Linked DNA regions of Homo sapiens: all the other regions are linked to region 1. Evidence: fine-mapped expression QTL. A gene starts in region 1. Each other region holds a variant in brackets. All regions are shown on one strand. Distances are between the middles of the regions.

Evidence for each region. PIP is the estimated chance that this variant, and not a neighbour inherited with it, causes the effect.
Region 2: its variant is fine-mapped to the expression of TCERG1L-AS1 in sun-exposed skin (GTEx, PIP 0.96).
Region 3: its variant is fine-mapped to the expression of TCERG1L-AS1 in thyroid (GTEx, PIP 0.98).
Region 4: its variant is fine-mapped to the expression of TCERG1L-AS1 in thyroid (GTEx, PIP above 0.99).

What each region holds. Positions count from the first base shown.
Region 1 is chr10:131,091,425-131,098,724 of GRCh38, forward strand. It overlaps TCERG1L-AS1 (TCERG1L antisense RNA 1), which reads left to right and starts at 3,794. Exons shown (of 2, transcript NR_120623.1): 1 at 3,794-3,875; 2 at 3,964-4,353. It overlaps TCERG1L (transcription elongation regulator 1 like), which reads right to left. Exons shown (of 12, transcript NM_174937.4): 11 at 6,882-7,000; 12 at 967-1,894. The coding sequence ends at 1,738. RefSeq lists an enhancer at 7,062-7,300.
Region 2 is chr10:131,308,933-131,316,232 of GRCh38, forward strand. TCERG1L (transcription elongation regulator 1 like) reads right to left here and starts at 2,789. Exons shown (of 12, transcript NM_174937.4): 1 at 2,362-2,789; 2 at 221-367. The coding sequence starts at 2,703. LOC101927461 (a long non-coding RNA gene) reads left to right here and starts at 2,924. Exons shown (of 3, transcript XR_242763.6): 1 at 2,924-3,342; 2 at 5,202-5,347; 3 at 5,724-6,846. The variant T/C (reference allele first, on the strand shown) is at 3,331.
Region 3 is chr10:131,199,293-131,206,592 of GRCh38, forward strand. All of the region lies in intron 4 of TCERG1L (transcription elongation regulator 1 like), which reads right to left. LOC105378563 (a long non-coding RNA gene) reads right to left here. Exons shown (of 5, transcript XR_946484.1): 3 at 7,137-7,300; 4 at 5,227-6,830; 5 at 3,261-4,962. Among named protein-coding and RNA genes, the nearest start is that of TCERG1L-AS1, 110 kb to the left of the region's middle. The variant G/C (reference allele first, on the strand shown) is at 3,755.
Region 4 is chr10:131,166,302-131,173,601 of GRCh38, forward strand. TCERG1L (transcription elongation regulator 1 like) reads right to left here. Exons shown (of 12, transcript NM_174937.4): 5 at 496-584. Among named protein-coding and RNA genes, the nearest start is that of TCERG1L-AS1, 75 kb to the left of the region's middle. RefSeq lists an enhancer at 1,005-1,505. The variant T/C (reference allele first, on the strand shown) is at 3,837.

The DNA of each region.
Region 1 (7,300 bases):
GTCCTCCTAATGAGACACACTTACTGTCCGCAGCACCCCAGGGTGGGGTTTCCAGCAAGTCCCATCGCACAGCATTTCAATTACACGTCTCCTTGCGCCAAGCCACAGCTATGCCTTCTTCAAAGGGCTGCAGCCCTCCGCCCTGGTGGAGAGGCCTTTTCCTTGGATGCTCTCTGGAGCCCTGGGGGCGCTGGCTGCTGCTGTCACCTGCTATCCCTATGCTATTCAGTGATCTGAACTCAGCAGCCTCCAGACTCCCATCCCCTGGGGTAGTCATCCATTGATAGATCCATTAATAGATCCCTGTTCAAATCACAGGGAAGTCTCGCTTTCCTGACAGCCCCTCGCTGATCCACAATCGGCACTTGCTCCTCCGGAGTCTGGCTCTGACAGCACCGTCACAGGTCCTTCCAACTCCACAGGTCATGGCCAGGTAGGAGGGCAGCTCGTGTCAAAAATGGCCTGAGCTGAGCGACGGCCCTGGAACCCCCAGGGGCCACCCAACACGGAAGGTGAGGTGTTAACAGCGACAGTGTCGGGACCAGGGCTGAGCTCAGTGGAGAGTGGATCCCACCTTGCCCAATTACATCCTAATAAGTGTGGAAAAAAGTGTTCTCATGGGAACTAATTAAGAAGAAGGTAGGTGAGGAGGCTGTGTCACTGTTTACTAGGGGACAAAGACATTGTATCTGAACAGAGAACTCCATAAATCTTGAAATAAATGAATGGATGTTTAATAGTTTAAGGAATGCAATTAATTAGTGAAGGTTTTGCCAAACGTGGTTCCACCCAGGACTACTAAGTATGTTGAAAAGTGAGATTCTGTGTGAGTGGCATTTTCATGGCCCTTATTGCAATCATCGGGATTTTTTTTCTCCCTGAATCTTTCAAAACTGGGTATCTTTAGTTGAAACACAATGTTGCTGCTTAAGATCATGGGGAATGTCTTAGTCACACATACACACACTGGTTTAAAATATTTATTGATTAAAAAAAATTAAAAATTTTTTATACAAAGGTGATGAGAAAAAATCTCATGCAAACTCCGGGCATACAATAAAAATAACTCAAATATTAATATGATGATTTTGTACAAAATAATTCTTTTGAAGTAGGACCGGTGGCAACCAACACGGCTCCCTGCTCCAGGCCGGGACGCCCCTCTGGGAGGAACGCGCGGCCACCCTTGGAAACCTGTAAGTGATCCACGGTCCAGGTGTGGAATGCTCACAGTTGTCACTATGATGAATGATGAAAACCCTATTGCTGCTACTCAGAAACGAGACTGAGACCTAGGGACAGAGTAAGGAATTCCTCAACACTGCGGGAATCCTGGAGAAACGAAGTAATTCACAAAGGTTTTCAGAAAAGTTTTCGCCAATCGTCTTAGGTGATGACACAAATGCCTTGAGATTGTTACAGAGGCTCCCGTTCCTGCTTCCCCACAGTCCTGCAGTGGATTGATAATTTGTGTATATTACAAGTAATTTGCATAATTAAAACAATTAAGGGATCGACGTATCACGGTGATTAGAAATGCATCAAACTCTGAATGTACAAAAGAGAGAGCTTCAATATGAAACAGTAATCCTCTGAGAACGAAGACCCCGCAGTGCCGGTGCCCGCTGGGCCGTGCAGGTCTCGGCCGCCCCACGCCCGTGTCCGTCTCCACCGTGACCCCCTCGCCCCCGGCACGCCCAGGGTCAACCCCCGGGCTTATTGCATTTTTTCACAAACTCATCTCATTTTCCGCAGCCTTAGTCTGTTTTCCTTGTCCCGTTTCTTAAGAATAAGTATGAATTGGTTGAAAAAATGCTCCTGGTCCTTTCTTTTTTGAACAAGTCGGAACCTCTGATCCCGGCCGTATTTCTCTGCAAACTCCTTAAACGTGGTCCTGAAAAAGAAAGAGTTTCCTGAGACACCTTCCAGAGAGCAACTCTGGCCTCCCCAGAGATCCTGCAGCGGCACCGCCTGAGCAAGCATCCAGCCCTTCCACCAGGCCTGGCCGTGGGTGGCAGGGCACCCGGTGGGTGAGCGGCTCTGACCAGCCGTGCCTGCTCCTCACCCGGGTCCTGCAGGGCCCTGACCCACCCTCACTTGCAGGACCCCCTTGTCTCTCCTCTGAGTGGTCTCCGGAAATGAGCGGCCCCCACCAGCCTCCTCAGCCGTCTCATGCAGCTGTCACTCCCCCAGCCGCCCCGATCACAGCTTTGCTGGCCAGGTCTCCTCCGCCCCTCCCTTGCTGCCACCAGGCTCTGCCTGCCACGGTCTTTCTTACACTGTTCCCTCTGCCTGGTACACCCTTCCCTTGTTTCTTCCCCCAGTTAGAGCTGCTCGTCATGAGAAACCAGGCCAGGGGGTCTTCTTTGGGAAACTCGCCCTATCTAGAGGCTCAGAGAACTGTGACTCCATCACAGCCCTCTTCACAGTGGTGATCTTGTTAAACCTCACTTGCGGAACTGGACTCCCACATTCGAATGAGGGAGACATTATCTGCTTCGTTCTCCAATAAATGCCCTGAATGTCCAGCCCAGTGCCTGGCAAGTAGTGAGCCCCAAACACTGATGGAGCGAATCAGAGCTGCCAGGCCAGGTGGTGCCCCGTAAGAAAATGCGAGCGACCCAGCCTAGAGCAGCAAGGCTGTTCTCAAGGCTACGGCAGCTTAGAGGGCAAAACAGGATGCGCCTCTGCTGTGACCAACTGACCTTCGCAGGCACCGGGCCCCGCAACTTCCTGTTCTCTTAGCCTTGAACTTGAAGCCAGGGACAGGGACAGAGGTAGAGGGACCAAGGCCTGGAGCCGCTGGCCTATGCAGATGCACTCGCTTGTCCAGCGACAGTCGGGCAGGGCCTGGCCTGGGCAGTGTGCTCTGGGGTGCACGGAAAATGTGGACATTCTTTGTCCGGGGGATTCTTCTTATTCCCTCCCACTTCTCCTTACAGAGAATTTTACACTTCCTTGCAGACACGGAATTATTGTGTTAAATTATTATAACTTAATAGCTTCTGAAATATACAAACAACAAGATTATGCCGACATGGCTGTTAGAAGACAAGACAAATAATTAGCAGACTCATGCTCATTTCTGTCATTGAACAATTCGTCTCATTCCTTCCCCAAGGCGCTGCCGTTTTCCTGCTCTCCGTCTGTGGGGGTGCTTGTTTACACATCTCTCGCAAGAAAAGCGCTTCTCTCTGGCTTCCCTCTTCCTCCCTCCCTCCTTCCTGCCCTCTCCCCTGCCTTCCCTTCCTCCTTCCTTCTCTCCCTCCCTCCTTTTCTCCCGGTTCCTTTCTTCCTTCTCTCCCTCCTTCCCCCTTCCTTCCTTTACTGATGTAACCACCTTGGTGTACCTTGGCTAAGCCACACTCCACCCCGACCTGCGGGGGATGAGTCAAACGGTCAGACTTGCCTGGGCTTGTTCCACGCTCCCCTGGCTAGACAGGCATCTACACATTCTCAGTTAGGGGCTGGACAGGGGCAGCTGCTAGACAGGCCCTATTCTGGGCCTCTCTGAAAAGAAGAGTCCCTGAAAAGAAAGGGAGCCTCCCGCTTCCGTGGCCCCTTAGCCATGCCAAGGGGCAGCAACCGGCTTTCTGCTGATGCTGATGAGCTGTGGTGTGAACTCACGAAGGTCAGCTGATTCACAGGCCCTGGATCTCTGCTCTCCCTCTGCTAAGTGGGACTCGGGCCAGCCTGCCATGAAGGAGGCGGCTGCTGCAGCTCTCAGGAAGGAACACTGGGCGGCTAACCCCACCGGGCGGCCAACCCCACCGGGTGTCAACCCCACCGGGCGGCCAACCCCACCGGACGGCCAACCCCACCGGGCGTCAACCCCACCGGGCGGCCAACCCCACCTGGCTAGGACCCAGTCCCCGGTAGCTGCTCTCCCGAGAGGCGGGCAGGGCTGGGGCTAGGGGCTGTCCAGGAGTGTTCTGGACTGTCCCGTCGCCACCATTCCCACAGGCTGCTCAGGACCGAGGCTGAGACGGGCGACCAGGACGGGACTGTATGGCTGCAGGAGGCTACACAGCCTCAGGAGGCTGCTTCTAAGAGGCCCACGTCGCCTGCATGGGGACGCGCCTGGCTCTCCAGCATGTGGTCATTTGAATTGTACATGTTTCACTAGGATGCCTACAGAAAAGTATACAGAAGATCTGGAAAAAGTTTTTGAAATGTTGAAAACTTAGCTACTTTTAAAATGAAAAAAATAGCTTTATAATTATCAAAGCAATATATCCCAGTGTAAATTTTAAAATAATTTGCTACATTATAGTAAGCATCTTATCTCTATGTGCCCTATAACATTATGTTGTATAGTTTAAATATATACAATAAAATTTATTTTAAAAAATAGCAGGCAATTAACTCTCATTTTAAAAAGAGTCCGTTTAACTCCCTTCTAATTTCTACCACTCGTTTTCCTTCTGTGTGCGTGTATGTGTGTATGTCATCTTTTTTAAATGGCTCAATGCATTCCGAATATTTTTTCCGTTGTCTTCATGATGTATTCATGGGAAGGGGAGTATGTGGCTTATTGCTGCTAGTTTATCAATAGAGAATGCTGGCCAGATGTCTTTAACAGTAATGATGGTCTCAATAGCAGTAATGACAGCTACCACTTTCGGAGCTCCTCCTGCCTGCCAGGCACCGTCGGGGTCCCTCCCTGCAACTCCTCACGCCATCCTCCTCGTCACTTTCTGAGGTGTGTGTGGTCATCCTCCCATTTGGAGGAGGGCTCGGGAGCACAGGAAGGTCCAATACTTACCCCATGGCCAGGAGAAGATGGGCCAGGGCCAGGCTGTGAACCAAGGCAGAGAAGGGGCTCCAGCACCTTTCCAGAGCCCTTGCCTCCTCCGCCTCTGTCCCAAGGCCACCTGGTGGGTGGACACAGCTAAGCCATGGCTAGAACCCAGCATTCTCATGACTGCTTTAACAATGGAAAATCACAAGTTGCAGGCAACAGGACACACATTTCCTTGTCTACATTAGCACTTGTGATGAAGATAATTCATGCTATTTTTTCCCTATTCAGAAAGTACCTGTCCTTAGAATAGCTAGAGAAGTTTTATGAGGATTGTGTAACTAGCACTAACTTAGGTCACCTAATTCTTGATCAACCAAATCACAGGTCAAACAAAGGGGGCCTATGCCTTCATAGAAAGCATCAATTAATGTCCATTTAAAAACCGATGCAGGCCAGGCGCGGTGGCTCATGCCTGTAATCCCAGCACTTTGGGAGGCCAAGGCGGGTGGATCACAAGATCAGGAGATCCAGACCATCCTGGCTAACATGGTGAAACCCCGTCTCTACTTCTCTACTAAAAATACAAAAATTAGCCGGGTGTGGTGGTGGGCACCTGTAGTCCCAGCTACTTGGCATGTACCCAGGAGGCGGAGCTTGCAGTGAGCCGAGATTGCATCATTGCACTCCAGCCTGGGCAACAGAGCGACTCCATCTCAAAAAAAAAAAAAAAGAAAGAAAAAACTGATTCTGGCTGGGCATGGTGTCTCACGCCTGTAATCCAAGTACTTTGGGAGGTCGAGGTGGGTGGATCACCTGAGGTCAGGAGTTCAAGACCAGCCCGGTCAACATGGTGAAACCCCATCTCTACTAAAAATACAAAAATTAGCTGTGCATGGTAGTGGGTGCCTGTTATCCCAGCTACTTGAGAGGTTGAAGCAGGGAGAATTGCTTGAACCCCGGAGGCAAAGGTTACAGTGAACCAAGATCGTGCCATTGCACCACAGCCTGGGTGACACAGCGAGGGTCTGTCTCAAAAAAAAAAAAAAAAAAAAAAGAAACAAACAAAAAACTGATGCTGCATCTTCCAGTCTAAAATAAAAATACATTGTTAACCATTTTTATGCTTACGAAACTTACAGTTTTATAGTTCTAAAAGTAGTACATGTTCATTACTTTTTATTTATTTCTTTATTCTTTGAGACGGAGACTCACTCTGTCGCCCAGGTTGGAGTGCAGTGGTGCAATCAAGGCTCACTGCAAGCTCCGCCTCCCAGGTTTACGCCATTCTCCTGCCTCAGTCTCCCAAGCAGCTGGGACTACAGGCACCCACCACCACGCCCGGCTAATTTTTTGTATTTTTAGTAGAGACAGGGTTTCACCGTGTTAGCCAGGATGGTCTCGATCTCCTGACCTCGTGATCCACCTGCCTTGGTCTCCCAAAGTGCTGGGATTATAGGCGTGAGCCACCGCGCCCGGCCCATGTTCATTACTTTTTAAAGATCAGTCAATTAAAGCTAATTTTTAAGAAAGAGTTAAGCTTATGTATTCTTCCAATTTCTAACATCTATTTTCTTGTAAGTGTGTCTTATTTCATGGAAATAATGCCTCATTTATTATTTTAGTAAGTTTTGGCAACCTAGTTAACTCAGTTCACTTGTCCGGTGTATCAAATCTTCATTTTACTCTGGGACCAACTGTTAAGACATCTGGAACCAAGGGGTGTGGTAGGGGTTATGGTGCTGTTGTTTGTAGTCAGCTTTGCATTTTTGCTTCTTGATCATTAGATCAGAAACTAGACCTCATCTCATGAGTGCTCACGTATTGATTGGTTATTTGGGTCAGTCAGGGCTGCTGACGTTTGAAATGCATGCAGGGTAGGAATAAAATGGTTGTGATGCATTTGGTTAGCAAATAGCCCACTTTCCCAGGACTGATGAGAGGGACATTTGGAGGCTCATGACAGGCAGCATGATAGAGGGGAGCCAGGCTGGTCTCACTGGCAGGTCTTCAAAGCTCACACTTTCGTGTCTGTGGAAGGCTGGGTTACACGATTTAACAAAAACAAACCTGAAGAGTCCTCTTGTCATTGGTAAGTTCCCAGCCCCAGAAATCATCCGGTATATTTCTCTCTCCATACCTGGGAGACACTTTAGATTCCTCTAGAAGTTTCTTGAATTCTTCTTTGGCTAGCAGCAATTTACTTTTCTTTTCCTTGTATTCTTCTTTTATTCTTGTCTTGACAAACTGTTCAAATATCTTAAAACACAGATACAGAAGAAAAACATCATGAAATTGCATATCAGAAATGAAATCTTGTATTCCAAGCACAACATGAGAAAGCAGCAAGAATCTATGGCAAAAGCTGTTCTTGTTTACAGCTGCTGGAGTTATGAGCAACAGCCTTTCAGCATAGCTCTCAAGGATCCAAGCAGTCTGAATAATTAAACCTGGGTGCCCACACGGCCCGGCATTTCTCTACATGCAGGCGCCATTTCTGGGTCAAACGTGAAGCAGCCCTGCTGGAGAAACCCGGAGAATGACTTGGCTGCCCTCTCT
Region 2 (7,300 bases), 220 kb after region 1:
ATTGCCCTGTGGAATCCAAATATCCTAAACTAAAACAAAATGCCCCCCACCAGCTGATATTTTTGAACAAATCAATCTAATCCTGAAATGATTTATTTCTATACCTAGATGGCCAATTTATGGCAACAAGAAAATACATGGGTATTTTTGTTGTTATGTCGATGTTCGACAACTTAATCATTAAAAGCCCCTTATCCAATTAAATCACTTGCGTTTTTACCTTACAGTTAGGAATCCTTTTGTCTATCCAACTTTTCCCAATAGGGGTTGCAAGAGCAGAAGGGCAGAGATGTGGGAAGACGGGCACCAGCTCCACTGTGGAAGAGGGGGGCAGTCCTAGGGACGGAGAATGGCCACCAAACAGCCACTGCAAGCCAAGCAAGAAAAGACAGCTGCATTAGCCTGAATCCATCCACTCGACTTCATGCCAAAACATGCTGGAATAACTGCTTTGAAAAGGGAATTTCAAAATGTATGTATTTGATTATCAGATAAATTTCCTCGAGAAAAACTATAAGTATGTACCAATCAAAGAAAAAATTATAGAAGTTTTCATATCTGAATCATCACAAAGCATTACCAACATTGCATTCTTCAATACTGAAAAAGAACTTCTAAGCACAAAACCACAAGCACGCAGTAAGAAATGGGTTTCTGCTCTGAGATAATGAGAAATCACCATGAAGAAGAGAAATGCTGGGTATTCCTTTTCTAATTCTTAAATTATTTTTATAGGCAGGCTTAGGGCTATATTTTATAATATTCCTTTCAGCATTGCATTTTGTATTAATTACTTTTGTCGTTTTACAAATAACTAATACTTTCAAAATGAAAATATCTAGGAAGTTAAGATTCCAAGTTTCACCAATACAAGGTTCACCAATACAAATAGATTCTATGGCAAAAAAAAAAAAAAAAAAAAAAAAACTAAGCATCTTCTAAGTTGAAGATCTCAATACACAGAATAAAACATCAGTCATGGAAAGGGGCTGGTAATTCAGGGCACCGTCTCTCTAATTAAAATAACTGAGACCTCATAAGGCACTAATAAAATGCATTGCTCAATGACATGGAACGTTTCAGTACCTATTGTTTTAAAATCGTAAAAGCATTTGTGATGTTCCTGTTACATGAAAATGTTCTTCTGGTTGTACATATTCTTACTTTACAGAAGCTGGGTAGCACAAAAATATTTAAAAGATTAATGCTAAGGTTTTTTAAATTTTCTTTTAAATTTATATAAGTGAAAAAATGCAGTTTTTTAAAGCAGAATTTAAAAAATGTAGTTCCTTGACATTATATACCTCTAGTGGCAGCACTCTGATATAACACCCCTCCAAAATACGGCAAAAACTACCAACGTTTCTTGAATAAAATCCAAAATAAACTGCATCACACATAAAAATACAATATCCAGTGCTGCATATGTGATGTATCATTAAGTCTAAAGACCAATTTAGCAGGAGTTTAACAACATCTTTTAGAAAAGCTCACAAGATAATATTGGAATTAAATTAATCAAATGGTGTATTCTAACATAACACCCGTTTGAATATGCTAATGAGGTCAATCCTTGGAATAAAATGCACGCTATTCCCTGATTTAAATGCATCTGCATAGTTAGCTGACAATGAATCTTGCCCAAACCAGCCCGCCTAGCTCTGCTGCACCATTTATCAAAGGTTCAGTCACTTTTTCTTTTTAATCCCATGTCTTAAAAGCCAAACTCTAGTTCTAAAGTGCAGTGTGGCATTAGCGAATGTGGTGGACTCCGGCAGGCCTGGGGCAGGGGAATCTCCGGTAACATCCCTCAGTACCGAAGGCAGGATTTCCCGGCCACTTCCGTCGGTTGGAATTCTCTTAAGCATTGCCCTGAGTCTATTTTCAAATGAAAGGGGGAAAAACCCAAACCAGATTAGAATCTGAAACAGCTGAAACAGCTATCGATTTCCAGCTTGCTTTCAAGTCTGGCAGAGACTGTGAAAGTCCTAACTTCTCCGCGATGTCAGCCACGGCCCGCGGCGGTCACGGAGCCACTTCAGCACCTCGCGATGGACAGTGACCCCCGGCGTGGCGCGAGTTCCCTGCGGTCCCCACGCGGGCCTGGGCGGCGGGTCCCTCCACGGCTCCGTCCAGACACCCGGAGGCACCTGCCAAAGCTGCGGAGGTGGACGACCGGGCGTCCAAGCACGAACTTTCTCGCCGAGGCACGGCTGCCGGGCTCCGTCCTGAGGGTTTGGGGCGGCGAGGACCGCCGGGGAGGAGGGCGCGCGAGCCGGAGGCCAGAGCCGGGCCGGGCAGGGCGCGCCCAGGAGCAGGGGAGACGGCGACCCGGGCCGAGGCGGGACGGGGACACGTTACCTGCCCGTGGAGCGCGGGGAAGGGGTGCGCGGCGGCGGCGGCGGCGGAGTCTGGCGCAGAGGGCAGCGGCAGCAGCGGGAGCACCGGCTCGCTCGGGGCCGGCCAGCCGGGGAGACCGGGGAGCAGCGGGGCCGCGGGCGGCGGGGCCGAGGCGAGCAGCACCGGGGGAACCACGACCCCCGCGCTGAGCCGGAGCAGCCCGGCCGAGCCCGGCACCATCCAGACCCAGGGCGGCGGCGGCGGCGGCTCTGCGTCCATCGGCCAGAGGAGAGGCTGCCGCCGCCGGGGCTGCTGCTGCTGCAGCTGCCGCCGCCGCCGCTGGAACCTGGCGCCCGCCTGCATCCTACATCCCCGCGCTGACGGCGGCGGCGGGGGCGGCGGGCGCCCGAGATGCTGGGCCGGCGGCGGCGCGGCTCCGGAGCGAACTCACTTGGCTCCGCGGCGCGGCCGCTCGCTCCGCCCCTGCCCCGCGCGGGAAGCTCCTCCTCCTCCCGCCCGCGCCGCCGCCGCCCCCGGACCCGGCCCCCGCCCCGGTCCCCGCCCGCCCGCGCCCCTCCCCGCCGGACCCCGCCCCGCCCTCGCGCTCCCCGGCCCTGGCCGGGGTCTCCTCCCCGCTGCGCCCCTGGACCCGGGCGGCCGCGGAGGACGTGGGTGGGAGAGGGCCGAGGGCGCGCCCGGCTGGGCTCCCGCCGATGCCGGCCCCCTGGTGGCCTCTGGCCCTCTGGGACCCAGCGCACCGCGAGGGAGGCTCCGGGCTCCGCACTCAAGGGCAAGCGGAAGCCGAGGTGGCGGCGCCGGAGCCAGGCATGTCCCGCTGCCCAGCGCGGGGCTGAGGGCGCAGACGGGGACCGCGCGAGCCGCTCTCTACCTGGCCTCCTCGGAGTCCAGGGCGCGGAGGGTACTGGGCTGCGGATCCGGCGCAGGCGGCCCCGGACGCTGCTAGGCGCGGGCGGATTTCTGTTGCACAAA[T/C]GGGCCAAACAGGTTCGTAAGGCCCCCGCGGGTCCCCTGGCCCGGAAGTTGAGCCGCGGGTGCCTGGTCTGAAGTTCCGCGCCCCACAGTGGCCCGCGGGCCTCGGCGGCTCCTGCCCTACGCCCTCCAAGGCACCAGGCAGGTGGCCCCAGGGCCTTTGCCCACGACACCCCCTGGGTGGGGCAGGACCACCCCTCTGTGAATTCGTCCTGGATGCCCCCAGGCACAGTCTGTACTCCTCCCTCCCCCAGCACACGCGGCCTCTGACGCTGCACGCCGAGCTTCCTGGGACCCAGGACGAACCGGGCTCCAAGGACCCTCGCTCCGCCCGGACCACACGCAGGCAGCGCCGGCCGAGCCGAGCCTGGGTCCGCACTGGCCACGCGCAGCCACCGCCAGACGGCGCTAGCCCTCCCCCGCTGTAGACCCTGCTTCGGAGGCCGCCAGCCTCCTCCCCATCCCGGGTCCACAGCTTCAGTGCAGCCCCTGGCGACGCGCGCTGACAGCTGGGCAGAGACTTCCGTGCGCTGTAAACCCCTTAGGTCGCTAAACCCAGGAAACCCAAGCACAGCTAATGCCAGCGCGAGACCAGTGTTGTTAGAGGCATTTGAAGGGTCTTTCTGGATGCAAAAGGCAGCATTATGATCCATGCATTTAAGAACTTGCATGAAAAACCCTCCCTGACCTGGGTGGGAGAGCAGGCACCCACCCACCCAGCGGCACTGACACGCCTGGTACTCCAAACCCGTGTTCGCATCACCTCCCACCTGTCCACTGCCAACCTCCTGAGATGGCCTAAAGCACCCGAGTGCTTTTAATTTGCGTCTAGGGTTGTTTCCTCATTATCCTGATTTGCTTAATTTCCTCTTGGCCTGGCCTGATTTCTTTTAGATCTGGGCATATGCTGATTTACATAGCTGGCGCCTCCATATTTTCCTCCACGAAAACCAGTTTTCAATTAGCAAGTTTATCTCTCTCTTTGATGCAAAAGTACTGGCATTTTTTTTATTCACCTAAAATCAGAAAGCTCTGCACATTAGAAGGCTGTTACTATTCACTTACACCCTTAATTTATGTGCATATATTAGTATGTGCACATGTGTTATAAATGTGTTAGTTTAATGGTCAGAGCCAGATCAGGATATTGGGGAGGCGTCTCCAGGCAGGCTCACATGCCCCTGCCACCCCCCACCTCCCCCACCGCATAGTCCCTTTTGCACAGGAGATTCTCCTTCCTTCTGCTTGGAGGCAGAGACAGAAGGCCAGGGGTGCTCGTGCCTGGCTTGCATGCTGTTCTCTGCAAAAGCAGGGTTTTGCGTGTGTGGCCCCCAGGTTCCTGGGAAGGTAGGGTTGGCCACAGTCTGTGGGAGCTGTAGCACTCCTTTGGGGAATCCCAGCCCCATCCCCACTGTCCTAGAAAGGGTTCTGCTGAAGTCCGTTTTTGCCAGCACCCCTCCGGGCTTCCTGATGCTCTGAGCTCAGGACCCCTTGAGCCACTACTTGGCTCTGAAGAAGAGCTGGAAAGTCGAAAGCAGCTCTTGACTCAACCACAAAGCGGCCTAAACTCTTGCTATTTCCTGCCACAAGCTTGACTCTCCTTTTGTATGACAATGCTTGGGAGCCCTTTTCTGTACCATTCTGTGTGCTAAATTATGGGAAAACAGCCCTCAACGACGCAGGCACGGCCATTTCCACTAATCGTTGCTAGGGCCAAGGACCCAGCACAGGGCTTCTCCCCCTCCTCCTGGCTCTCATTTCTGTCAGATTCTTTTCAAGGTTTGCCTCTCATCCCGTTTAACCCGGGAACCTTCTACACCCTCATGGATAGGAGAAGCCCCCTCATAGATACACTCATTTCAATGATTGTTTAGAAGGACCGCCTCCATGAACCGGTTCTGCAAATGTCATTTGTACATCTTGAGGATGGTTGAAAGAGCGAAGGCAAAGAAGATGCAAAGAAGACAGCTGTCACACAAACAAGCAGGATGCCACCTTCTTCCTGGGGACCAGAAGCCAGGTGAATGTCTAGCTTTGAGCTGGGACTCTCTGCCAGAGAGATGTGTGCTGGCAGGCACATCTCCCTCCCTGTGAGTGCCCCCAGAGGTCAGCCCTGGGCAGACAGGTGGCAGGCACCCCATAAACTCGCCCTTTGTTTCCCTGTAAAAATCAGTGAGAAATTTGCTTTATAAAGCATCTTAGGTACAGTCTAGTCTCCAGCTCTCCTATCCAATAAAAACAACCTTAAGTCTTTCCATGTTATTTGGGCAAAACCAGCAGAAATTTCCTGCTAAGCTGAGACAGGATATCACCTAGGAAGAGGAGATCCGCAGCAGGGAAAACGTGTGAATTACCTACATGTGCTAATGAGTTCCCGATTGTTTATTACCTTTCAGGAAAAAATCATGGGGAAGGTTTCAGAGACATCAGTGGAATAAGATTTTGAAGCCCATAGAATATTTTTTTCTTTTTGGAAGTTATTTTATTTTGTTTTTCTAAGTAAAACCTAATAGAATCCCAAAATGGGAGAGATGAAAACATTTCCTTCCAGCCCTGCAGAGTTAAAGTAAACAGCAGGGAAACAGGAGGGAGGTCTAGGCCCTGCATATCACCTCGGAGGTTCCCTGCACCACCCACCGCCCACGCTGCCAGAACTTCTTTCCAAAGCAATTGCCAATCAGACCAACTCCTTTCTGAACACTCGCCAGCTGCGCGATGATGAGGCCCTGAATGAAAGCCGTGCCAGCGAGGACCCAGAGAAGGAATCAGCAGTGTGACACCTGACTCAGTGCAGGGTGAGGAGCAGGAGGGTGTGAGAGTGGCTCCCCCTGTTCTGTGAGACTGGGGAGAGCCTGGAAAGTCTGTGCTCAGAGATGAGGAGCCCTCTGGGATGCACCATGGGCCAAGAGGTTGGCGAAGACGTGCTGACCTGGAGGGCTCCAAGGTCACCTGGAAAGACTTATCCTCTTCACAATTGAAAACTTCAGCCAGGAGTTCAGGAGCAAGGTCTTGGATGGAGCCACAGAACTGAAATTAACACAAAAATCGAGAGTGGCAGCTGTCCGTAGTGATTGTGATCAAAGATGTGGGTGGGATCGCCCAAGGCAAGCACAGAGTGGGAAGAGGAGAGGCCACTCATGGAATCAAGTGACGGGAAGTGAGGCTCCCAGCGAAAGACAGAGCGAGGTACACTGGGCCCACAGGCCGCCTGGGCAGCCAGGAGCATGCTTGTCTGATAAAGGCTGTTATTACTGTTATTTTTGTTATCAGTGTGTTACTGTAGCATATCTGGAAAATACTGCGGAGCATTATGAGTCAGAACCCCTCAGGGAGAAGCAGTGCTAACCTTTCGGTGACCTCTGTACAATCATTTTTTCTCCTCACTTCTCTCTCTCTCTAACGTGTATACGTGTGTATGTGTGTGTGTGTGTGTGTGTAGTATGAATAATATATTGCATCTTGTAATACAGTATTACATTTTATATTAAATTGCATTTTCTAATAAATAGCTTTAATGCAGCCTGTACTATATGTAACCTTAAATCTTATTTTTCACCCAGTATCGCAACATAAGCATTTCCCCACATTATTTAAAAATCTTAGAAGAACCCACTTATCAATAGCAGAGCAAATACCCCATGGAGGACAGATGGAGGTTCAGGTCGGGGCACCCTGTCGTGTGAATTTGCATCCACTGTGCTGACTTTCTGCAACTGTCGAAGGACCACACGTGTGAAAAGAGCCACCCAGAAGCTGGTGCAGAGCAGGTGCTTAGTGCACATCGCTCCCCCCAAGCCTTCACCAAGGCAGATGAGTAGTTTGTGGCCTGTTTGTTTAAACAATGTGTACCTGTGTTCATAATTGAGAGACAGGGACCCCCACATGGAGTCAGGCAGGAAAAAGGCAGCTGCGGAGAGCCCCTCGCCTGTTTGGCCTGTGCCTCTGCCTACCTGGTTTGTACCCTCCGAGTCCT
Region 3 (7,300 bases), 110 kb after region 1:
CCAACTTTAAGCTCTGCTTCTCTTTTGATTGTAAATTCCATTTTTAACTTGTTTCCCTCTTTTCACATTTTACTATAAGGTCAAAAGAAGCATCCTGAACCCCTTGCTGCTTAGAGATTCCTGACAAATGTCCTAGTTCACTGCTCGCAAAGCTCTGCCTTCACCAAGTCCCAGGACACAGACACAGCTCACCCAGTTCTTGGCCACATTATAACAAGGGTACCCTTCCCTCAGTTTCCAATACCTTGTTGCTGAGAAAGAAAATAAACTTTTTATCTGAGGAATGCAAGCCCCTTTAAAGTAACAGGCCTGTTAAATGGGCATTAAAACTATGACAGCAGTCACGTCACACCCCCTTGAGCTAAATAATTACTTCTTGAAGCCACCTGCTCTGTGGGGTCTCAACTGACAACAAGCAGTCATAAAGGGCCACATACCAGGCACCATCATCACACCCTGTGTTCAGCAGTGCACAGCCAATCACTAAACAGTGCCCCTCCTGTAAACAGTGGGAAATCCCACCCGACAGCTTTGTAGCAGCCACCCCTCGTTCTCTTTCGCCTTTAAACACCTACTCGGAGCACTCCCCTATGCAACCTAGAAGTGTGTCCCGGCGGCTGCCCTCACTCTGGCTCTAGCAAAGGCTGTAAAATTACCTGCTGTGTCTCAGCTTCTCCCTTTAGGTCAACATTCCTCCTTTCCATCTGAAGCCTCCTCTGAATGGCCCTTCCCATCTATATCACTACTTTTCCCGACAGCTCTCCCCTCCTCTGAGCTCTCACCAGGATCGTCCTTAATGCTCTGTTCATGGCAATGCAGGCTTTTCCCAGCATTCACTCTGAAACGATTCCAGCCTCTGCCCCATTCCTGGTTCTAAAGCTGCATTCACATGTTGGGTATATTTTATGGCAATAGCCCACTTCTCAGCACCAGTTTCTGCCTTAGTCTCGTTTGTGCTGCTAGACAAACGAGCTGAGGCTGGGTATTTTATGAAGAACAGAGGACAGAAGTCCAAGGCCAAGGCACTGGCAGCTCTGTTGTCTGATGCAAGTTCCTGGCCACTCCACCCCAAGGAGTGTGGAGGGCCCAACCCCTGCTCCTGTGTCTGGAACATGGAGTCAAAGAAGGTGATTCTCAAACCTCGAGATGTAATGCCATTTGCATTGTTGGGTATTGAAATTACTTTGGATCAGCTACTCTTTCCTTCTTGCCTATGTCTCCTTTTTGGAATCAGGATGTTTATCCTATGTGTGTTCCACCATTGTATTTTGGAATCGGATGACTTGCTTGATTTCGCAGGCTCACAGCTGGAGGGAAATTTTCCTCGGAATAAATCACACTTTGGGTCTCACTCATATGATGTTTAAAAGACTCTGCGCTTTTGAGTTGATGCTAGAACAAGTTAAAACGTTTGGAATTACTGAAATGGAATGAATGTATTTTGCGTGTGGGAAGGACTCAAGTTTTGAGGGTCAGAGTAGAATAATATAATTGAATATGTCCCCTCTAAAATTTAGAAGTTAAAACTTAATGGTCATGTGAACACATTAAGAGGTGGGGCCTTTAGGAGTCGCTTAGATCACAAGGGATCCTCCCTGGCAAAGGGGATGGAGGCCCTTATAAAAGAGGCTTCTCGCACGGTTATCTCCCACTTGCCTTTCCCCCTCCTGCCAGTGCTGTGAGGACACAGCCTCCCTCCCCTCGGGCGGATACAGAATCACGGCGCCATCTTGGACGTGGAGGGCAGCTTTTGTGGTCTCATGACCTGTTAAAGGCCGTGCCTCTTGACACCATCACACTGGCAACTAAGTTTCAACACATGAAACGTGGAGGGGACACATTGGAACCATCACAAGAGGTGAAAGAATTCCTGAGAGTCAGGCCCACCACCCGCATAGCTGGCTTTGCCTCCCTGGAAAGTGAGCCCCCAAAACACATCCCACTAAACTCAAACTAAATGAAGCACCTCCCTTCCCCCAGCTGGGTCCTGCCACACCTACAAACACTCCACCACCACCCACAAGGCAGGGACAGCGACAGAGAGGGTCACGCTGGGAACAGACAGCAGCCTTCCTGAGGCCATCGAACATCCGCAGATTTTACACAGACACGTGATCGTGGGAGCACAGCGCCAAGAGTTCCCCGGGGTCTCGTAAGGCGCCAAAAAGGAGGGTCCCAGTACTTCAGTTTCATTCATTCATTATGGACCCGTCACTGCCAATGTAGAATTGTTGCTTTACTTACTATTTTAACAAACGCCACAATCTTAGAAGCTCTTAATAAGCATGATTTAAATGGCTGCAAATAAAAAAATATATAAAAATAAAATAAATCAATGGCTGCCAAATATTTCTACAAAACATGGACTGCAATTTGCTCTGCTGCTGCTGTTGGGCATTTGGACTTCTTTTTTATATTTAATCTCCGAATTTTACACTGCATTCTGTGGGATGTCCTCATGCGTCCTTCTCTGCGGGACTGTAATGACCTTCTAAATGCTCAGCTGTGAGTGAGTTTTTCAGAGCTGCCGGCTTTGCTAAACATGGCTGCTCTTTTACCCCACGTCCACCACCACGCTGTGCTGAAGGCGCATCCATCGACCTTCCTCAGAGACGAGGAAAGAGCCAATGAAAGATGCTAGAAAGCTCTAACAAGTCCCAGGGCCACGTGGGGGTCACGGGGGCTGGTTCTCTCCAGATCCTGTAATGCGTTTCCGATGACTGCTCCTTAGGAAAGGTCCCATGGACAGAACTGCTGGGTTAAACAGACAAACTAATTAAGAGTCTCGATTTATATTAATCCATTTCTTTCCAGAAGCGTTGTACCAAACTGCATGATCACCAGCTGCACGTGAGCCTCCCGACCACATGAAGGAGCACAGAGAACGTACACGCTCAACTGATTGTAACAGCCCACGTTAGAAACAGACTGATGCCCCCAAAGCAAGTAGGTATGCGCATGTCTGCACCGTGGGGTACCACAAAAGCTGGTAAGGCCGGAACTTTTTCGCCGGGCGCGGTGGTTCATGCCTGTAATCCCAACACTTTGGGAGGCCGAGGAGGGCGGATCACCTGAGGTCAGGAGTCCGAGACCAGTCTGCGCAACATGGTGAAACCCCATTACCACTAAAAATACAAAAATGAGCCAGGCGTGGTGGCGAGTGCCTGTAATCCCAGATACAGGGAGACTGAGGCAGGAGAATCCCTTGAACCTGGGAGGCGGAGGTTGCAGTAAGACAAGATCATGCCACTGCACTCCAGCCTGGGTGACAGAGCAAGACTCCATCTCCAAAAAAAAATAAAAATAAAAAACAGATTTTTTCAAGTTCACTACATTTTGGTCTTTAAGGTACACTGCTAAGTAAAACAGTAACGTAGCGGAATTCAAGTCAATAACATCCTCTCCACATTTTCAGGAATCCATAGGCTTGCATGGAATACACTGGAAATATTCTGATTATCTGATTATCAATAGAAGTTTCCAATATGAGAAGAATAGGGTTGGGAGGAGCTTGATTCTATAAGCTTCTAAATTGTTTCCATTTTTAAAATAAAATATGTTCATTTTTTACAGTTTATTTAGAAAAAAGAAACACTTAAATAATTAAGTCTGCCGTCTGTGGAAACGTACACCTCAGTTTTGATTGCTTCATGATTCATATTAACCAGGTGCCATCCTAAGTGGAAGTTTGAGTGAAGAGGTTTATTCTGGTTCACAGATTGTGGGGACAGAAGTCAAAGGTCACGCCGACACC[G/C]ATGTGCTTGATTTATCACACAGCTGCCAGGAATTCCACTTACAAATTCAAGAACCATAGACAACAGCCCTCAAAGCTTTTCAATGACAGCAGTGACGCCTTCTCAGGAGTAGTGACAGTGTTCATGGATATGCGTATACCTGTCTTCAGCCCTCCGAGCTGCGCTCTCTGGGTTACAGAGCACAGCTGGGTGGTAGATGACCTCACTTAAGACTTCCAGTACGTCCCACTGCACTCTCGCATGGGTGACAGAGTGAGACTCCGTCTCAAAAAAAAAAAGACTTCCAGTATGTCACAGTGGTGACCTTCATGGTCTCGTCACTTAAGATCAGCTCACTGTTTAATGAGGCTGATGACAAAAAAGCACCCTAAGACCTCTTTGACCAGACAGCAAACTGCCTCTGGTAGAACATCCAAGCTGGCCCCAATCACAGGTGCTCACGTCTCTATTTTAAGGGAATGCATGCACAGGACTTCTCAGCCTCATGGGAAAACGCCCCCGTCATGTCAACCGTTCACATTCGAAGATGGTGCGTCTCTCCCATGAGGATGAATGTGGGTCACCGCAAACGATTCAGGGACACATCTGCTTCTGGTTTGTGGCCCTGCCATACCGAGTTTCAGAGAGGTTGGAATCCAGAGGCCAGTAGGGGCCGGGAGGTGGGGAAGGCACTCTCCTAACTGCTGCTTCTGCTCACATCCCGCCGGCGAGCGCTAGCCCTGGGGGCAGCCTGGGAAATGTGATGGCAGCCTCCCTAGCCACTTTCCACTTCAGACCTCCTCCAAGTGGGGGGTGGGCATCTTAAGGGGACAGCTGGCTGTCTCCACCGCAACCCAGCTGGGAGGGGAGAGGCGTGATGTCACATTAGGTCACACTAGGGCATGAATACGTGAGTCCCCACAAAACCCCAAAGTAGGAAGCTAAGCCCCAATAGGACGATATGAAGAGGTGAAACCTTTAGGAGATGTGAAGTGATGAGAGCAGAGCCCTCATGGATGGAATGAGCGACCTCATGGAAGGCCCGAAGGGAACCAGCTAGGCCCTCTTAGCCCTTGCTCCCTCCTGCCATGGGAGGACACAGCAAGGAGGCGCCATCTTGGAAGCCTGGTGGCTTAGCACTGGGCCTGGGCCTAGCTAGGGTCTTGGCAGCTCTCATCAGGCACCAGATCTGCTGATGCCTTGGTCCTGGACTTTCCATTCTCCAGACCTGTAAGAAAAGCATTTCTCATCTCTATAAATTGTCTAGTCTAAGAGTATAGAGGAGCGGGAACAGACTGAGACAGGTCACAAACCAGCAAGTGGGCTGGCCCGATGGCCCCACCACAAGCAGGCTCAGGAAACTGGCACCTGCCCCCCCACCCTGCCCCCGCATCTACATGGCCTCCATATGCACAGCTTGAAAATGGGGATGAGGATGAGTCCATCCACCCCAAATGCCAGAAAGCACCTGTCAAAGCCATTTCCCATGTACAGTGGAGAAACTGTCCGTGATGGTGGGTCCTGGCTTCCCAGCAGCGGTGGCCACAGTCACTGTGTGGGCTCCAGTGGGGCACGGAGCCAGCTCAGATCCAAAGGTGTGTGTCCTCAAATCAAAGGACATCTGTCCAGTGTCCTTCCACTAGAGGCTAAAATAAACCAATGAGCCTGCGGGTAAGGGAAGAATGTTTCTTGGGGCAGAAGACTCCCTTCAGGGAGAGGCCCCGATGGCAGTGGACTTGTCCCTCAGCCCCTTCACAGCCTGGCCCCAGGCAGAACAGGTTGGCTGGAGAGAAGAGCCCACCTCTCGGTTTTATGAACAGGCAGAGGAAGGGATCCTTGATGGAGGTTCACACCATCTCTGACCACAAGCCCAGTGGCCTTTCTGCTTGAAGTCCAGGGTCTTGACCATGGGGTCAGGGCTCACGTGCTCTGCAGCTGGATCTGGTCTAAGGCCCCTGTCCCTGGACCTGTCATGCCCTCAACCCCTGCCACCCGGCTCTTTCTGGGGCTGCACTGAGAATCCAGCCTCTCCCAGACCAAGCGGCCCATGGCATCAACTCAATGGCAGCCTCTCCCAAAATCCAATTTCATTACACCTGGCTTTACTGCCGTTGTGACTGACAAGTGGTCCCCTTAAAAAGGGAAAAAGAAGGTTAATGCTCGCAATTCATCCTTTTATCCCAACAGCTCTCCTTTATGGAACGCCACATAATTAACCAGTGACGTGCACGCCTCATTGTGAGGCACAAATCAGATGCATCCCAACTCTCTGCTGTGTCACTTGCTTCAGAAATGTGAAGCTATGAAACCTAAACAGGTTTTCAATTTCTCCTAATGTAAAAAAAAAAAAAAACAGCAATAAAATCAAAAAGTGAGAGAAAAAGGGAGAAAAAGTTAGACTCTGGAAATAGCATCCTTCATGAAACTACATTAGATGTGAATTATTCCCACAATGATTTCTCTGTGGAATTGCCTCATTCCAGCCTGTATCTCACATTAGGGAATTTTGTAACAGGCTGAACTTTTATTTAAAAATGCTTCTCTTAAGTAGCTCCAGTGCAGCCCTGGGGACGTGGAGGTAAACGCCGCCTTCCATGGCCTTCCCTTGGCAGGGCACATCCTGGCCTGGGGTCATGGGGCCACCCTGGCATCTCTGACTGCCACTTCCTGGAAAGGCAGCATGTCCGCAGCCACCTTGCTGAGGTCACCTGGTCTTGGAGGCTCAGCACGGCGGACCTCATCCTTCCTAAGAGGCTGCAAAGGTTGTTTTATCCAAAAGATGTTTTATGCAAAGGGTGCAGGAGACGGGAGGCTGTGGGAGCCCCTGGGATGGACCCAGAGTTGGGAAGCTACGACAGAGGGCCGAGGTGGTGACTGCCCTCCACCTGGCTCCTGTGCCAGGTCTCTGTGGGGTCTGTGGGCAGACAGCTTGCCATATGAGCAGGGGTCCACGGGCAGATGGTTTGCCATATGACCACAGAGGTCTTACTATAGCTCTGTAGCTCCTTTGTCTGGAAGACTCTGAAAGGGCAGGAAAATGGATGCTGCAGACACGAAGCCCTCAGGATTCCCAGGCGGGAGAACTGGCTGGTGGCTCTGGAATAAGAAGTACAGGCGGATTTGAAGGATGTCATGGACAACGAATGAACTGCCAATCGGGTGTACGCCAAGGTCCGCAAAGGCAAATCCTCATGGAAACACCATCTTGGGTCACCAGAAGGGCTGGTCCTGCGGACCGGCTGGCAGCCTGGGAGTGGACTCAGGGCACTGGGCAGGGAGGTCAGCCCGGGACACACCCTCCAAGGGGGTCCTGGAGTGAAGACCGGTGTGGGAGCTCTGCCCAGGCCTCCCAGGCCCTGGGGCCCCAGACAGCCAAGGAAGGGAAGAATCCACCTGCCTCACCTGAGCCTTCCTGGAGCAGCCCTCAAAGGAAGGGGCACGAGGAGAGGCAGAATAGAGGGCGTTTTATCCATGGAACAAGCGCCCCTCGTGGGCGGCTGCCCGCCAGGCCTTGCACAGGCCCTGGGTGCAAAGTCCGTGCAATCAAGGACCCCGTGGCTGAGCTC
Region 4 (7,300 bases), 75 kb after region 1:
AATGCAGTAATAAAAAGGACTCCCTTGGGTTATTGAGAGGAAGGACTGTACTATTGAAAACACGAAATGCTTCAAATGCACTGTCTTGGCCAGTCTTTAAAACGCCATTTGGCAAGCCAGTGAAGAGAAAGACCTGAAATTAGAATGAGTGTGTTGGCTCTTCTTTCCTCTTGCCTAAGTGGTGTCTGAGTTTGACTACCTTGTGTGTCTTCTCTTCCTTCTGAAAATGGACAAAGTTCAAATGGAAGCCAAATCCCTTCCCAACAGAGTCCCCCAGGGAGCTTCAGACCCAGATCTGGCAGGACCAGCAAGGGCTGTGTCCCTGCTCTCTAGGCCCCGCCTGGCCCCTTCAGTGCCAGGTCCTGCTGCTTCACACAGCAGATGGCAGTCATTTCACAAACACCATACAGCAAACAAGCGTGAGGGTGTCCTGGCCCTGGTCCTCCACACCCAGGGTTTTGTGTCTTTAACACACACACGAGCCCCGAAACTGACCTTGTCTTCTTTGTCTCCATCCCGGCTCTTCTGGGCCCGCAGCATCAGGGCAGGAGGGCGGGCCACTCGGCCCCGCTCTGTCCTTGTATCTGTTGGGCCAAAGCAGTTGTCATTAACATTTCATTTGTCACAGTAGTTTGGAAAACCTAAGCAATCAAAGACAAAAAGTGGCCCTGAAGATTAGAATTGGTCAGTAGACACTGTGCATTCCACAGAAAGGTGGCATTGCCCTGTCCTTGGGTTGAAGTCTAGTGACAAAGTTCTCATCCCAAAGCGAGGATGCACCTGACAATGGGTTTGCAGGGGCCAGAGGCCTGGGCACACACATGCACCTCTGGACTCCCCAGCCCGACCTCCCGGCATCCCTCTCCTGTGCCTGTGTGTGCAGGCAGTGTTCACTCCACCCTGGACTCAGCCTCTTGGACAAGCAGGAAACAAGCCCAAAAGTGGGAGGCCCGAGACTTGGCTGTTGTCCATCTGGTGACAATCACCAGGGTGAGGCTGTGACAACCCTCACACTCGCAGCCCAGTGGGCCCAGGGTGGGAGTGCTGTGCCCAGGTGTGTGGATGTCTTGGGGCTGCTCTCTCGCATTGTGGGGCCCCCAGTGCGCTGGGCAGTCAGGAGCCTCCTCCAGTGATGCCAACCTGCGCCCTGGACTCCATCTATGCCCAGGCTGGGTGCCATCTAAAACACTGTTGGCCAAGCCTTGTGAACTGGGCCACGTGGGTCACAGATGAATAGGACACAGGACCTTCCCAAGAAGGACAAAGGGCCAGTGTAGGACAACAGAACCAGCCTTGCTGAGGTTCTGCCAGCTGGTGGCCATGATGGGCTGCCCTTGGTCCTGGCCCTGCCAAGGGGACAGGAGGGGCTATGTGCAGGCCACACCGCCAGTGACCGTGGCTTACTGGCCGCCATGGTGGGCCCTGGTTTTTCCAGGGGGCCGGACCCACAGCACTTGGAAAGGTGCTTGTTTCAGGGGAGGAAGGGATTCTGCAAATTCCCAAAGATTGTTACTTTTTTGTCTTCTCCAAAAATGTCTATCTAACTCTCAAAATTTTGCAAGTAGATTCAGGGAAAAACAGTAAAGCAAGGTTGAGCTCTGTTTTAATACCAAGAATAAAAAGAAGGACCCAAACCATCTAACCACACACCAACCTAAAACAATAGATAAGTTCTCAAAGGAAAGCCCTGGCCAGGTCTCATGGGTGTGCAGGGCAGGACCCTTGGGAAGCAGAGATTTGTTTAGCTTGATCCAGAGCTCAAGACTGGGCAGTGCAGTCAGGGAGGCCTGGGTATGCTCCTTCCTGGTAGACGGAAGGATGGGGAATTAACGTAAATCACTTTATACGTGTGTGCACACAACACACAGGTGCGTATATGCACACACACACATAGAAAGGATGTCCTCTGGCCCCTTCAAGCTACACGTCTGTGCTTGAAGGGGGTGAAAGGCAAGACTGGGGGTCCCACTGGCACACCCCACCTTCTAGCCTTTCTTCCTTGCCCCACTGCAAACTGGGGCCCCTCTGCAGCTCCGGGAAGGAGATTTGCATAGCTCTGCATGGGGCCAGCTGTCATGTCCTCCGTGGGCATTGGCACCTGTCTGGCTTGCGGCTGCAGAGCCAGGTGGTCTGCAAGGCATCCCTCCCCAGCACCCTTGGGAGGAAGCCCCTCATTTGAGTTGGGTCAATCAGCAAATTTATTTCAGGTGCGGAGCAGCAACACTAAGGCAGCCCAGACGTGAGCCGGAGGCCCCATCCCCGGAGGTGCTGAGTTCGGATGAGGCAGAAACACAGCATTCCACCCCTGACTCCCCTCCATCCAGTGAGCGGGTGGAGGAATGCCCAGCCTGTCCACCTCTTTCACTCTGCACAGCGCCCTGCCGGGCAGGCTCTCCCCAGGGCTGGGTGGCTGGTCTGCCCTTAGTGCCGGCTGCTGGCAAATAGGCTGAGCAGGGATCCCTGAGGGCGCCGGCCTCCTCCGTCATTGCCACTTTACGAGGGTGTCCACACAGAGTCTACACTGCACACTCTTCCTTCACAAGAGGCCTGCCAAGGCCGACCACAGGGCTCCCATACAGCCATGACCACCCCAAGAGACGCCCTCAGGCCTGACAGCTGCGTGCACAGGTCTATTTCAAGGTTGGCCTTGGGGAAGGGACTATCGGCTTTTCACTGAACCAGGTAACCAAGCCTGAGTCAAGAAAAGATTTCAGGACAGTGGAAATATTTTACTGTCACTCAGGAAGAGAAGCAGAGTCCCTGGATTGCATTAAGATTTCCGGAACTCTGTTAAGAATTACTCCCAGAGCCCATTCTTGTCAAGGTGCAGCGGTCATCAAGCAGCCTGGACACCGGGTCTCTGTCCTGATCCTGCAGGGTCGTCCTGTCCCCACCCCATCTCTGCCTCCTCATCTACAAGATGGGATTAGCTGGTCACTACCTCTATGCCACAGAAAGGGGCAAGCAGATGGGGACACAGCCATGCCCTGGGGAACCCTCATTAAAAAACCCAGGGCTCTGTCCCTCTGCCTCCATCCTGCAGACACCAGAAGCAGCCCCCTGACTGAGGCACAAGGGGGCACACAAAGGAAGCTGAGCCCACCGTTCCCCTGCCCTCACAGACCCAACGCAAAGCAGGCCCAAGCGATGGGACGAGGGAAGTTAAACTTGGTGATTCAATGACCCAGCACTCCACATATTTCACGACTGCTCTGAGACCTATTTTTTGACTGGATATGAGTGGATGGCTTTTTACTACCTAAGAATGAGCCAAAAGTGAATTGGTTTAAATTTTATCTAAAGTACAGCAAAGAGCAAGTCCCAGGGAGGAAGTCTGGAGGGGTCGTGCACGGAAAGCTGAGGTTGTGTTTTAATTATATGCCACACACTCTATGTTTTCAATATGGCAGGTGCCTATAAAACACACAGCAATCTCAGTAGCAGAAATGCACGTCTGTATCTTCTACGAGCATGTAAATAAATACACATTGTGAAAAACTGTGTTAGGAACACTGGCAGCCTGCGAGGAGGCCGTAAGCCCATAATACTGTTCTCAAATGACAGCATTGCCTAGTTTACTCCCCATTACCTTGAGAAAACATATTAAGATATTTTTCATATTGAAAACAGTTGATCTTGTAAAAAATCAGATCTTAAAGTCTGGCTTTTGAGATAAACGGATTTACATTGTTCCTCATGAGTGCTTCTTAGAGGAGATATTGTTGATGATCATTTTAAAGCCCCCAGTCACAGACACACACCCCGGAATACCTGCGACAAATGTTTGTGCCTTGCCCTAAATAGTTTTCTTAATAACCGGCACTCTTTCACAGTCA[T/C]TGATTTTGCAGGTACCTTGGAGGTGTGTGGGTGGCACCAGGGGCTCACACACATAATTGGGTCTGCGTGTCAGCCATTCCACCGTGGAAGTGCTTATTCTACGGCTCTCCGGGGGCCACTTCCAGGGTCCACTCTGACATGCTTAAGTACTCTTTGCTTTGGGCCTCTCCACAAACTCTGATGATGTTGTCATAAACTCCTCCCTTGAGTGGCAGACAGAACTAGTTTATGGAGGAAAATCAACAAGTGTAAGACCATGGGCGCTAAAGTACTTCGGGGAGCATGCAATGTATTTCCGCCCTCCGAGAGAGGCACGGCGGTAATACCTTTCTGGGCAATGCCTCTATTGATCAAACCCAGCTCTGAGATGTGAAGTGCTCCCCAGCTCCCCAGTGCCCTTCAATGTAATTTTCCTCCTGGCAGTGATGAGAGACAAAGAGAACTGAGAAGGTCGCATGAAGTCTGGAAGGAAGCAAAAAAGCCTGTGCTAAAAACTCCCACGCCAGTCAGCTGACAAGCATTTATTCACTGCTCTTATAGAGTCCAGCACGACCGTCCTTGCTGGTGGGGAAGAAGTGAGAGGAAGTACTGTGAGCAATTAGACACTCCTCTCCTCCTCTCTCAAAGGGCCGCAGGGACTGGGGAGGGCATCCAGGGGAAAAGTATTCAACACCAGCCTCTTGAAGTCAAACCGGGCAACAAAATATCTCTTTAAGAAAAGTGTGGCGGCCGGGCGCCGTGGCTCACACCTATAATCCCAGCACTTTGGGAGGCCGAGGTGGGCGGATCACGAGGTCAAGAGTTCAAGACCAGCCTGGCCAAGATGGTGAAACCCTGTCTCTACTAAAAATACAAAAATTAGCTGGGCATGGTGGTGTATGCCTGTAATCCCAGCTACTCAGGAAGCTGAAGCAGAGAATTGCTTGAACCTGGGAGGCGGAGGTTGCAGTGAGCTGAGATCACGCCACTGCATTCCAGCCTGGGTGACAGAGCGAGGCTCCATCTCAAACAAAAACAAAAACAAAAACAAAAACACACACCAAAAAAAAGAAGAAAGAAAAAAAGAAAGAAAAGTGTGGAAAGAAAAACTGTCCTATCTCCTGGGCAAGTCTTAGCTTCAGAAACTCTTGGAACTCAGCAATCAATTCGCCCTGTTTCCCTGAAAGAAGGGGGAGGTGGGTTTGCTTGTGCCTGACCCGGGGTCAGGGTCCTGGAAGCTTTTCCGTATTGCGCTTCTCAGTCATTAATCCAGGCCCGAGGCACCTGTTCTCCTAGAGTGCCTGGAAGGTGAAGACTCAAAGGTATCATCATCACCTGGGGTCAGGCCTCAGCTCAAAGGCAGCACCAGGATGCGGGTCCAGTTGATGGCATATGCCATGTAGTCATCACACACCCTAAGACCAGCAAATGCTTCTTACATTGAATGAAGTATCAGGAATTTATTTATTTATTTATTTAGAGACAGGGTCTCACTCTGTCATCCAGGCTGGAGTGGGTTCACTGCAACCTTCAAGTGATTCTCCTGTCCTTCAAGTGATTCTCCCGTCTCAGCCTCCCGAGCAGCTGAGATTACAGGCATGCGCCACCACACCTGGCTCATTTTTGTATTTTTAGTAGAGATAGGGTTTCACCATGTTGGCCAGGCTGGTGTCGAACTCCTGACCTCAGGTGATCCTCCTGCCTCGGCCTCCCAAAGTGCTGGGATTACAGGCGTGAGCCACTGCGCCTGGCCCAGGAATTTATTTTAACATTCAAAAGAGTTTGTTTCTTTAAAAATTATTAAAATAAAGAACTACTCTAGGAAGTCAAAAGTGTCTAACTCATCAAAAAGTTATTAGAAATATATCAGTATCTCCCAATGCAAAAAGTAATTCTGAAAGTCAGTCCAATTTTAATTCCATAAATATTGACCTCCTTTGACCTCAGTTTCCTCATCCATAAAAGAAACTGTCTTGATTCTCTTCCAGTTCTGGGATTCCAAGTGTCAACATGATATCTGGAAGCGTGTGGAGTAAATCCCAAAGGAACTGGAGTTGCAGCCCTCACCATGAGGCTGTAAGAACATGCGTCTTCTGGTTTCCTGCCCGGGGAGGAGGGGAACCCGGGGAAGTGAATGGACCCCACGGGGGAGGAGGGGAACCCGGGGAAGTGAATGGACCCCACGGGGGAGGAGGGGAACCCAGGGAAGTGAATGGGCCCCAAGGAACAGGGAGAGAGAATTTCACCTTTCTATTCTGAAAGCCGAGAGCAACCGCTCATGCATTTGAAACCAACCTCCTCTGATGATCTTGGAACTAGGCAGGAAATCTCTTAGGCTGAGGAGGGCGTTGACTCACAGATGGTCTCCACCACCCCTGAGGCTGGAGGAAACTGGGAGGGCTTGGAGTTCTCGATTGTTGTAGACTACAGCCATTATGAAAAGGGTTCATGAGGAGCATCCATATCACGCGTGCTCCACGCGCGCTGGCTCCGCTCGCAGCTGGGAGCAGACCCTGAGACCAGCTCACGCGAGCCTTGCTTGGTTGGACATGCACGCCTGTCCAGTCGCCTCCATTCTTGGGGAGAACACCCAGGCCTGTGCCAGCCATGATGGTGGTAGGGTGGCAGGAGCCAACCGGGAGTCACTGGAGCCCTGTTTCTGTGTTTGTCACAATCTAGTGACCCCATTTCCATATATGAATGGTTTCACATCCAAGAGCATATAAGGTCTCATCCACTTGCAGAATTGTTGTAGAGAGAATAATCAATGATTTTTTTTTTTTTTTTTTGAGATGGAGTTTTGCTCTTGTCATCCAGGCTTGGAGTACAATGGCAAGATCTTGGCTCACTGCAACTTCTGCCTCCTGGGTTCAATTGATTATCTTGCCTCGGCCTCCCGAGTAGCTGAGATTACAGGGGCCCGCCACCACGCCCAGCTAATTTTTGTATTTTTAGTAGAGATGGGGTTTCACCATGTTGGCAAGGCTGGTCTCGAACTCCTGACCTCAGGTGATCCACCCGCCTCAGCCTCCCAAAGTGCTGGGATTACAGGTGTGAGCCACCCCACCCGGCCTGAATGATATTTTAATCTTGCCTACTGCCTCCCTGGAAGCACCCTTCTGAAATAATTTCCAAGATGCTGAGATAAAGTAGGCACACTGATCTCATTTAACAACTGAGAAAAGCAGACTAGGTGAGCATTTTCTAGATTATAAAGTAACCCAGTAGGGAGGGCACAAATTATCCGTCAATTTAACCGGTACTGAGCTCCTTTGAAAAATTTGATAATAAAATAAGGGGAAAATGCAATTTATGGCTAAGGTAATAAAAATAACACAGTCAGGGCCCGTTGTATATGGTCCTGAATGAGGCGTGGTGACTGCATTGATTTTCCGAGTCAGCCTCTTCAATGAGAACCAAAGTATCTAAGGGAACCCTGCCCCTGGGAAGGTGCCTGCGTGCCATCTTCATGCTGAGTGTCAGA